3 linked regions of the Homo sapiens genome follow. The protein of the gene in region 2 purifies or fractionates together with the protein of the main gene of each other region. This does not show direct contact. Each region holds a gene or a part of one and is shown on either strand. Other genes may lie near its edges. The genes, in order: WDR11, RSF1 and RRP15.

Region 1 (3,654 bases), on a different chromosome or scaffold from region 2:
GAGCCTGAGAAAGAAGCAACTTGCAACTCGAGAGGCCATGGCCCGCCAGACCGTAGTCTCAGACACAGAGCTGAGTATTGTTGAATCATCTGTGATCAGGTACAGTACAGTGTTTCTTGACACTGTCATTTGTGCCATTAGCATCATGTCTGGGAAGTTGACAAGTATCATCGGAAGGTGTCTATGGTAGCAAGTTGGACTCTGCTTTTGAACATACTTAGTTTCATCTTTCAGTACATACCCAGATTACTAAAAAGATAATTTTATCATTTTTAGTATTGTACTATACTGTTTGTTATAACTAATAACATATGCAGTAATATTCACCCATCAGCATCTAGTAGTAAATGTGCTCATTCCGAGTGCCCTTCTACTCCATACACTTCAGCTTCTGAAATTCAAATGAACATAGCATAGACATACAGATAGATCATATTATCATTTATACACACCAAAGAAAATGTGTTGGGAATCCTAAATTTGTGTATCATCCCCATCCATACCAATCTTACAGATAAAAGGCTTCAGAGATAATGTTGGGTCACTGTACAGCCTCCCTTCTGTTGAGCACAGTTCTATAGCCAAAATCTCTATGAATTTTATTTTTCTTGTGTTAAGTTTAGATCACCATTTCTCTCTGTGCAGGGTAAACTTCCTCTGATGTTGTGGCTGTTAAGGAGTGATTCATGTTTACCCATAATTAGCTGGGCAAATATTAGTTTCAGACTTTTAAAAAAATAGTTTTGGACCTCCTCTTAATGCGTCTGTACTTTGGGCAAGTTAATTAATTATGAGTATCACTCTAGGGGAAAAAAAAACATCTTTATCATATGTTTCACTATCCCAAAGCTTGCTGCAGGAGGCAGAAAGTAAATCTGAACTTAGTCAGAACATCTCTGCCCGGGAACATTTTGTATTTACCGATATTGATGGCCAAGTGTATCATCTCACTGTTGAAGGAAACTCAGTAAAAGACAGTGCTCGGATTCCACCAGATGTGAGTACAACCTTGATTAAATCTTCATCAAGAAGATTTTGTTTTGTTGGTTCCATATCCAGTGAAGGCATAGTTAAGTTGGAAACTTCAGAAAAGCCTAATGTAAATAAACTTTATTTAAGGAGATATTATCGATTAAACTTGTTCCATACTGCTAGAGAATAACGCTGTAACTATTTTGATTAAATGTTTACTGTGTGCTACTCATTTTTATCCCTGTAATAATCCATGAGGAGTTATCTCCATTTTACCCATAACAAAACTGTGGGAGAATAAGTAACTTTCCCAAAGTTATCCAGCTTACTCATATGGCAGAGCAGTGTTTTAAACTCAGGCCTGTCTGACTTCAGTATCTGTCTTCTTTCCATTTCAGGCATTACCCTGAAGGATTTGACTTACAATCTAGTATTATTTTTGGATAATAGTAATCAGGTTGTAAGTGTAATAGTATTATTAACATTTACTAACTTACATATATTCTTATGGCCTTGTGGAATCTGTAACTAAAGTTTTGCCATTAATCATTTGTGTCAGCATGCATCTCATAGATAGTTTTTAATAGATGGATCATGAAAATGTTTATGTTAATTAATGCAGGCTATTATAATGGTTAAATGAAGGCATGAGGGGATTTTTTAAAATAGGTATATTTATTTTAAATTGCTATCTAAAAATGGAATGCTCTAGTAGAATGCCAACCCCCATAATTTTATAGGTGGCTTTGGGGTCTCATAAAGTTACAATCTAGATGTTGGCTGTGGCTACAGTCTTTTGAAGTGTAATGGGACAGAAGGATCTATTTCCAAGTTGGCTGCCTCACAGGCTATTGCACATTAATGCTGGCTGTTGACGAGGGACCTTAGTTCTTCATGTCGATCTTTCCATAAGGCTGCTTGAGTGTCCTCACGACATGACAACTGGCCTCCCCTAGAGTAAGTGATCTGATAAAGCAAGAAGGAAGTTGCAGAGTCTATTATGACCTGGTTTCAGAAGTCTCTTCAAAGGCAACTTCTTAATTAAACATTCTATTTTATGGCTAGGAAAGTAGATATCTTAAAATGTTGCTTCATATTATATACAGAATTTCATTTCTTTAATATTTTTTTTTATTAATGGACTTTATTATAATATTGATTTTTAAATCCAGTTTTTGTTTTGTTTCTTGACTATTACCAGAGTTTTTACGGTATTCAGTGTGTGTGCTAGTCCACTAATGGTCAATTATTCAAACCACTAGAGTTTTCTTACTTTTTACCATGGATACCATTTGAATTTTTATGTTGTACAATAAATGCAAAAATAAAATTTCTTTTAATAAATAGAGAAGTAATTGAGCAGTAATATTATTTAATAGCTAACATGTATTGACTATTTACTGCATGGCAGGCATTGCTTTAAGGCCTTTGCCTTTATAAATTTATTAATACTAGCAACAACTCAAGTTTCATGAACTTACCCTACTTTATGGACAATAAATCCAAGACAGAAAGGTTAAGTAAACATGCCTCAAATCACATACCAGTTTCAAGCTGGGATTCAAGCCCAGGCAGTGTGACTGCAGAGCCCAGGCTGCTGAGCCCTCCATGATACCACCTCTGAGCATCTATTAGAACTGCAAGTTCCTTTCTTCCTCCAAGTTAGATTGACTACAGCAGCATTTCATTCTTATGTTGTGCTTCTATATGTAACTTCTGAGCAAAGCTTTCTGTGAATTTAAACTGCATATGCCTTTAGTAAACAGCATCTCTTCACCTTCATGATTCCACAATGTTCCAAAACGTGTCAGTGAAGCTCTGGATCCTTTTTTCAATAGAAAAATCACGGCACAATTAGTTATAAAAGAGCTTTAAGTTTCCCTTGGAATGGATTTAGTTATCCTTTTGCAGTGAGAGATAAGTTTGAGTTGGCTCTCTGGAAAACCTTCCCTTTACTTCTCTGTTTTTCTTACTTTAATTTCCCCCTTTTTTTTTTGAGGTATTTGTTCCTCAAAAGACATCCCCTCTCTTTAAATCTAGTTCCAGTAACTACTTAATGTCTATGAAGTTGAAATCTCCTATTTCTTCATAGTTGAAATTGATAGGCAATGTAGCTCTTTGTTAGTGTCTAAAGTCTGTTTTAGGATTTGATGACTAAAAGCATACTAAAGCACAGCCCTTTAAATTAAGTTTTATTAAAATATTTATTATAATGTCTTATACAGCATAGTGAAATTTATATTTGTTTGTTGCTGTTGTTTTCTAGGGAAGTATGGGTAGTATTACCTGCATCGCTTGGAAAGGTGATACATTAGTGCTTGGAGATATGGATGGAAATTTAAATTTCTGGGACTTGAAAGGCAGAGTATCCAGGTATAAGCCAAGAATGAAATCTTGTTATTTCATTAAAAAAAAGAAATGAAATCTTTTTGTTTTGTTTTGTTGAGATGGTGTCTTGCTCTGTCGCCCAGGCTGGAGTGCAGTGGTGCAATCTCGGCTCACTGCAAGCTCTGACTCCCGGGTTCATGCCATTCTCCTGCCTCAGCCACCCGAGTAGCTGGGACTACAGGCACCCACCACCACGCCCGGCTAATTTTTTTGTATTTTTTTAGTAGAGACGGGATTTCACCATGTTAGCCAGGATGGTCTCGATCTCCTGACCTCGTGATCCGCCCACCTCGG
Region 2 (4,368 bases):
TGAAATATGTGTGAAAAGGACGCAGACTGAAAACGTTTTGGTTTTGTACATCAGTGCTGATGAAATTAGTGTAAAACATTTTCCATCATTGGCACATTACTGCAAAATGATGGCAGAGATATTTTCAAGAATGTACATCAAGTTATATTTCCTTGACATCCTTTTTTCAATTGGTCAAGGTTACAGATTCAGAGGATAAAGGGTAGTTTCATTTAGAATAAATTCATGTCTACTGGCAATCTATATATAAAAGTGACCTGCCCAAGAACCAAAAACTTTAAATGCTAATGAAGCTTTTGAAAAATAATTTTTAAACAAATTAATTTTAAAAGGGTGTTACACGTACCCAGTTTTTACTTTTTAGTTGATGAAACCCATCCTATAATATACATTTGAGCAAAGTACACATATTAAGAAAAACATGGACATTTACTTGTTTAATAGTCAAAATGATGAGGAAATGTTAGCTGTTTTTAAGTGGGACTGGTGGGGTGTCCTTTGTCACAAGGAATGCTTTTTTAGCTTGTTTGTGGGCATAAGAGATGTTAACCCTTTGCTGATTCTACCACACAACTGTAAAGAACCTAATGAATCTACAAGTTTAATATTCAGAAAAAGCTAGGAACTCCGCTCTTTACCAGTACAGTGGAACAGGCCCGTTATTCAAGGTGATGCCTCACAGCTATAGAACAACTATTCAAAGACCCAGAGTTAAATGGTACATGTGTATATGTGTGTGTGTGTGTGCACACGCACACACTTCAGATAAGTATCAGAAAAAATAAAAATGAATCCATCATTAACTTGAAAGAAATAAGATGGCTGCATTGCAACAGATACAAATATTATGAACATCATTTAATTACAGAAAATCTAGACAACAGTTTCTCCTGATGTTTGACATTCTCAAAATATATTCCTCATTCTCGAAGAAGCAGAGAATGCCAAGGCTGCATATCTGCTGTAATCTACCTAGCCCTCTTCTGCTTAATATGATCCATTATTGAATCTTCTCAGATTAAAATCCATTCCTATATCATCTACCTTTCCCAAAGTGTGTGCCTGTAAACCTACCTTGGAAGTGGCAAGTTAACTGATTTTTTTGTGTCATTTTTATACCAATCCTTAAGGTCAAAGCCTTTTGCTATCAATGTATTTAAACTGAGTTGCTATATGTTCACTAATTTGTTTTCAAAATGTTTTGCTCCAACTTAAATTATCTTTTAACATCTTTTGAGTGCCAAGAATTGCTAAGTAACTGTAATATGTTGAAGAGAGTAATTGCCAAGCAAGCAGTCATAAGCCAAAATGTAATGAGCTTAGTATATAACCACTTTAGAGTATACACTCACCACTTTTTGTATTCATTCATGCAAACCCTCCTGGAAGTCGATTAGAAGAGGATCCAATTTGTGGACCTTTTTTCCTCCTTTTGGACACCTGAGCACAATTTTTTTTTTCCTTTCATATTTATACCACTTTGGAAAATTCAGTAAACCCAATTCTGGCACATCATAATGGTTTCAGTTAGTGAAGATGTTTATTTTAATAACTTTAAAATATGACTATCCTATACATAAGTTATATAAGAGGGCATAACAATAGATGAGTAGAAATTTATAAAATTTCTTGGATATTTTGAATGAGAAAAAAACATTTTTAAAGGAATTTTGTTTTTTCCTTTTTTGGCCAAACCGGTACAAGTTAGAAAGTGTGCTAAGGACTGAATACTTGCCTCGTGCTTTTTGCCACTGGATGATGTAAGTTAAGAATGGAATTGTTAATCCTAAGTATATATTTTCTTGACTTTCATCAGTTTCTAAAGAAATCTAATTTAAGTGTTTTGCGGTTTTGTTTGATCTGTATTTATTGAGTTCTGGTCATAGACCAGCAGCTTGCACGTCATGCTCATGAACAGCCAGAACATAGTTATTGGGGAACTTCATGGCTCAAAACCTTCTGAATCATTTAACTTATTTTGTATGTTGCAAAAAAAAAAAAAAAGTTTATTTTGCTTGAGAGTCACCTTTTTTTAAAAAAAATAACTGTACAGCTTTTAAGGGATGGGAGGTGGGAAAATACCCTAAAATAGGATGTAGATTTTTTACAATTGTGTTTATGCTAGATCATCTACAGGTGCATTATGTAATTAAACCTAAAATTGTTTAAAAATTTGTGCCATGTCTTTTTCATTCTCCTGCCCTTTAGCAGAATTGGTGCATGTCAACTGCTATGTGGACAAGCCTTGAAATTAGAGTAACAAGCCCTGTCTCCAAAGCTTTAAGGTCACTGCATGAAAATTGCACACACACACACACACACACACACATCTAGCTTATATTAGTAAATGGATTTTCAGGATCAGAACAGCTACAGTAGCCCAGATTTGGCTGTTAACAGCATATTCTTACAGCACATGATTTTTGTGATGCCTAACTAGGGTATTCTCAATGTTAGTCTGGTGTTCTATTCTCTTTCAAAGTAGCTTCTTGAGATGGTATCTGTTGTAGCTTGCCCAAACCTGCCATGAGGTTGTGTGTACACTTTGAAAGGGTATGTCCTATGCTAAGATGGTGGTAGAGCAGGGCTTGATTTTAATCTATTCATATAAAAGAAGGAAAAAACTAGAATTGGTCTATTTGGTTATTCAGTGGACTTAATTCCACAGGAATAGTTGTCTGCTGAAGCGTGGCAGCAAGAGAAGTCAAATTCAAGTTTCAGTTCCTTCCTTATTCACTAAGTATTTTGAAATCTTGTAGAACTTCTGATTCTAGCACAGTCTTTTACATGGCACATTTTACCATGGTATATTCACAGCTTCGTTTAAATGTCAGTACTTTTTCCCATCTGATAATTTTGCCATTCTAATTTCTCACCTTTGTAGTACAAGTGTATTCTTGAAAATAATTAAATTCATCTAAGTGTGTCATAATTTCAATCAAAGCTATATTCATGTGTTGCCAGCGTCAGTTTTTTGCTATCCTCATTCAGAAGGGAAGCCTGCAGATCATGAGTTTCCATATGAAGAATACAAATTCCACATAAAAATTTATAAATGGTATCTTTAGAATTTTGATTTAAAGTAATAGCTGGAATTCAGGGACTGATCAGAATGCCTCTTGAATTTTCCAACATGCTTATATGAAATGCTTTATTTTCCTATGCGTTAAAAAAAATATTCCTGGAATAGGTTCTCAGAATGTTTTATTTGGTTTCTAGGAGATGAGATTTAAAGCAGAAGCTCCAAGATTGGCATAAAACTAACTCTTGAGGTAATCAGGACCATGCTGTTAGTCAAATAGAAGCTGGAGTGCTCTCTGTCACATAATGTACTGCATGTGTGTGGGGGTGGGGGGGCAGGGAAGATCAGAAAACTGGAAATGTAATTCTGATAACACGCAAAGTAAATTGTGCATTAAAAGTATGGGAATTCTTGGTAGCTTAAAGCTTCAGGGGTTAACTTCAGTGTATGAACACCTAGTGTGTTAGAATTGCAGTGCATAGTTGTTTAAATACAATATTCCTTGTAAGTGACAACCAAAATATGTTGTGGCTGGTGCCAGTATTTTTGTTAATGAAATGTTCAGTGTCTCACTACAGTCTGATCAGAACTCTTGGTGTTATAAGCCAGGCCTAAAGCCATTTTATAGCTATTGGCCTAATTGTGTAACTTTTTCTTTCAAAATGTTTTATTATAATACTTCTGTCATTTCTTTCACTTAATATGTCAATTGTCATAATAAAAATTTAAATTTGAATTATTTAGCATGATGTGTTTGCAAACTTAGCTTATTTTAAATTTTGTGGCACATGGAACAAATTGTCTGTAACAGTTCATGACGGTTAAAATTTATCACCCAGGCCTAGATGAATTGTTCTCCCGCTATCTAGAAAGTAAATTTGCAAGTGCATCAGTTTCCCTAAAATAATTTTTAAGGCTATTTGCCAACTAGACAAATATAGATATTAGAAAACTATTATTGATTTCTATATTTAGCCTCTGGAGAACTAACACATTATAGAGGCTGTGGACTTGTTCTGTGTGGTCCCATAAGAGCACAGAACTAGACCAGAGGACAGAAGCCATAGGGCAAAAGTTTTCCATTCATTCTATGGAGGAAGCTTAGTTCTCTAATAATAAACAAGCTTGGAAGTGAATTATTAGGAATAGGGGATGTTTGGGAGACCAAACATCCACACATTGATCCACGCCTTAAAAAATGGATTAAACCAAATGACTAACCGGTCCTTCCAACCCTGAGTAGGCTTCTCAGCTACAAATGATTTGACAGTTTTTATTTACTCTTGAAATACAGTAAAATTCACACTGAACTTGCTTTTTTACCAACAAACTAGCAGAGTATTTGT
Region 3 (3,654 bases), on a different chromosome or scaffold from region 2:
AGAGGAGATAACATTTGGGCTGCTGCTAAAGAACCTAGCAGTTATATTTAGCAGAATTACTTTTAAATTCTTGTTACCTAAATTATTTTGGTCATTTTCTAATCCATCTCGGTGTTACACAGTGCGATAGCGTGGTGTGGTGAATAAGGGCATGAGTGATAGAGCCAGTGCTCGGTTCAAATCGTAGTACTGGCTCTTACTAGCAGTGTGTCCCTGGGCATGCTACTTGATTTCTTTTTCTCTCAGTTTATCTGTAAATAGAGGATAATATACCTAGCCTATAGGGTTTCTTTGATAATTAAATGGATTAATACATATACAGAACTTAGAAAAGTACAGGCTCAGTACATGAGAGTGAGTGCCTCCTTAAAATTTATGTCCTAGGCGCCTCCCTTTCCTCACCCTGGTCCTGTCACTACTGTGAAGGGTCTGGAATTTTACTCTCCTTATAAGCTCATAAGCTAGCCTGTCAAAGTTTCCTGGATGCTGATAGAAGACAAGACACTTTGGATCAAAGACAAAGGACTTTATTATTCATGGCAAAAACAGTAGCAGAGCTTCATGTTCCCACTGTTTCCTTTGTCCCATAGAGGGAGTGCAGGTGTCCTAGATGGATGCCCGCATGTGCAATATGTTGTGTTACAAGAACTGGAACACTGTGCTTGGGATTCTATCACTTTTATACTGATTGGTAACAAGCCTGCTCTTTGTCGGGGGGAGATGTTACCTCATCCCTCAAGGTCACTACCTACAAACACAACCCTGAGAAATGGCCTGGATAAAGAGCAGTCAGGTGCATTCATTCTTGAAAAATCCAGCAACCATATGCAGGGATGCTCAAGGCCCAATAATTATTGGAAGAGGCAGATTGCCTCTTATTAGAGCAAGAAAATTCATAGATTGCAGAATTTTAGAGCCGGAAGGGATCTTAACAGTCTAAATCAACGCTATCCAGGAGAAATGAATGTGAGCTACATTCATTTGTAATTTAATATGTAATTTAAAATGTTCTTATAGCCACAATGAGAAATATAAAATGAAAGAGGTGAAATTAACTTCAATAATATTTTATTTAACTCTGCATTCAAAATATTCATCATGTGGTCAGTATGAAGCAGTTATTAATGATATTTAAGGATTCTATTTTTCATACTGAGTCTTTGAAATCTGGTGTATTTTCATTTACAGCACATGGCAATTCAGACCAGTCACATTTCAAGTGCTCACTAGCCACATGTGGCTTGTGGCTCCTGTATTGGATGCTGCAGGTCTTAATTTTCAGAATTTATCTTTGAATGAACTCAAATAAATACAGAACATAGTTTTTAAAATAAGTATTTTTTAAAGTAGGATTTTACAATGGTTTCATAACACAAGAGTTGCAGATAACGTAGCTAAATACTTTTTAAGCTACTGAGGCATTATTTTTCCAATTTACAGATGAAATTGAGATCCAGAAAAATCTTTCTTGGAGTGAAGCACAAAGTTATGTACCAATCCACATTTGTTATCTGTTTAGAAATTTATATTCATTCATTGAAATGTATATTCATTTTTCAGTTGTATTTATCAAATGTATTTAACCACTTATCCCGTTCTTTCCTTTGAGTACTTGTTAAATGCTTGCCTCTTTTCTAGACAGTGAAAATACATTTTTCCTATCCTCAGAGTTTGTATTCTAGGGTAATTATTTAATACATCATTCTGGTCATTTTATATTCTACAGGGGTGTGGTGCAATTATTTAATGCTGTTCAGAAACATCAAAAGAATGTTGATGAAAAGGTTAAGGAAGCTGGAAGTTCTATGAGAAAGCGTGCTAAGTTGATATCAACTGTTTCCAAGAAAGATTTCATCAGTGTTTTGAGAGGGATGGATGGAAGTACAAATGAGACTGCTTCAAGCAGGAAGAAACCAAAAGCCAAACAGGTAAAAACTTTTCTATAGGATTCAGTGTATCAGACTTTCAGCTCTAAAACTAGTCTTGAGATGGAAAACCAGACTATAGAATTACAGAGTTTTGTGTTTTTTTCCTAAATTTTATTAAAATTCCTCCATGCCCGCAACCTTTAGAGATAGGGCTTGCCTCTCTCCTATCTGAAATCCTGCCATTTTGCACATTTTGGAGAATAGAAGCCTGTGTGGGCCACAGCTTTAATTTCAGACTTTACCCATAGAGGGTGTGTAACTTACAAAATATGAAGAGTCAGAGAGTTTTAGGAAATAATGGTAGAAAGTCATTCTTGCATTGAGGCATCTTTAGTGATGTTTGGTTGAGAGATTAAGAGCATAAATACTTTCTATGACCTTTGGCATGAGAACTTTGCTTCTCCAGCTGCCTCAGTAGTTTCTTTCTTTCTTTTTTTTTTTTTTTTTTTTTTTTTTTTTGATGGAGTCTTGCTCCCTGGCCCAGGCTGGAGTGCAGTGGCGCGATCTCGGCTCACTGAAACCTCCGCCTCCCAGGTTCAAGCAATTCTCTTGCCTCAGCCTCCTGAGTAGCCAGGTTTACAGGCACATGCCATCACCTCCGGCTAATTTTTGTATTTTTAGTAGAGACGGGGTTTCACCATGTTGACCAGGCTGGTCTTGAACTTCTGACCTCAGGTGATCCACTCGCCTCGGCCTTCCAAAGTGCTGGGATTCCAGGTGTGAGCCACCGAGCCCAGCCAGTAATTTCTTTTTAATGTACCAGGTGAAAGGTTTTGAGATGTGCTTTACTTTTATAAGCGGTGGGTTTCTATTGTTGTCGTTTTAAAAAAGCAAAATATGTAGTTATATTTTGATGGCTTGATTTCTGTTGCCAAAACCAAAGGTACTTTTAATCAGTCAGGAAATGAGAATTTCTGTCATAAATTTTTTTGTTTGGGAAAATAATTGAAACCCGAGCAAGAAGAGCATTTAGGAATTTTATGCTAGCCTAGGGTTGGAGCATTTTTTAAAGTTTCTTAAGTTCATATTTTACCTAAGTGACAAAAGTTTTTGAATCTACTTGTCTCTTTCTTGAATATCAAAGGGCTCAAATTGTATTTTTATATAATAATAGTTCTCACTAGTGCTGCTATTTTAAAGTGTCTATCAGAAGTACTTGTAAATACATGAACACTGTGTTTGGGGATTTATACTTTTTAGTTCAAAGGCTTTAATAGGCTGTATTCTCGCTAGTAACATTTTACTGTAAGAGTTAGAGAAAGATTCAGCAACATTGGATGGGAAAGAACTAGTGGGAAGATGAAGAGACTTAGTTTTTTTTCTTTTTCCTATTGGTTTCAAAATAACATTTTATAGAAGCACATACTTTTGCTTTGGGATTATTTCTTTCATGAGTTATGAAAATACACAACAGATTCTTTCCACTGGCATTGTATTTTTTTCTTACCATTTGCACTTGCCCTTGACTTTCTTTTTTTCTACTTCAGTGATCACAGTATTTGTAAGTCTGGGACAAGGTCAAAAATTGCTTGAGACTTAAGCCAAAGTGATTTTGCTCTAAAAGTAATTTGTTTCTAGAACACCCTGCCCCATGCCATCAATACCCTGACATATTTCTTTCTTTTAAAAATGTGTGTTTTCATGTTGATTGCATATTTATGGAAAAACAGACTCCTTTTTAAAAATTTTGCTTGAGTTTGCATCTGAATAACTATGAAAGTACTAC

The links.
Region 1: the proteins of RSF1 (region 2) and WDR11 fractionate together in Homo sapiens (co-fractionation; one large-scale study listed by BioGRID). This does not show direct contact.
Region 3: the proteins of RSF1 (region 2) and RRP15 fractionate together in Homo sapiens (co-fractionation; one large-scale study listed by BioGRID). This does not show direct contact.

Annotation. Positions count from the first base shown.
Region 1 is NC_000010.11:120,885,840-120,889,493, forward strand, and holds part of WDR11 (WD repeat-containing protein 11), read left to right. Parts: coding exon 1-99; intron 100-849; coding exon 850-997; intron 998-3,238; coding exon 3,239-3,345; intron 3,346-3,654. UniProt on the Homo sapiens protein: Involved in the Hedgehog (Hh) signaling pathway, is essential for normal ciliogenesis.
Region 2 is NC_000011.10:77,659,399-77,663,766, reverse strand, and holds the end of RSF1 (remodeling and spacing factor 1), read left to right. Parts: 3' UTR 1-3,758; downstream 3,759-4,368. UniProt on the Homo sapiens protein: Regulatory subunit of the ATP-dependent RSF-1 and RSF-5 ISWI chromatin-remodeling complexes, which form ordered nucleosome arrays on chromatin and facilitate access to DNA during DNA-templated processes such as DNA replication, transcription, and repair.
Region 3 is NC_000001.11:218,305,705-218,309,358, forward strand, and holds part of RRP15 (RRP15-like protein), read left to right. Parts: intron 1-1,726; coding exon 1,727-1,928; intron 1,929-3,654.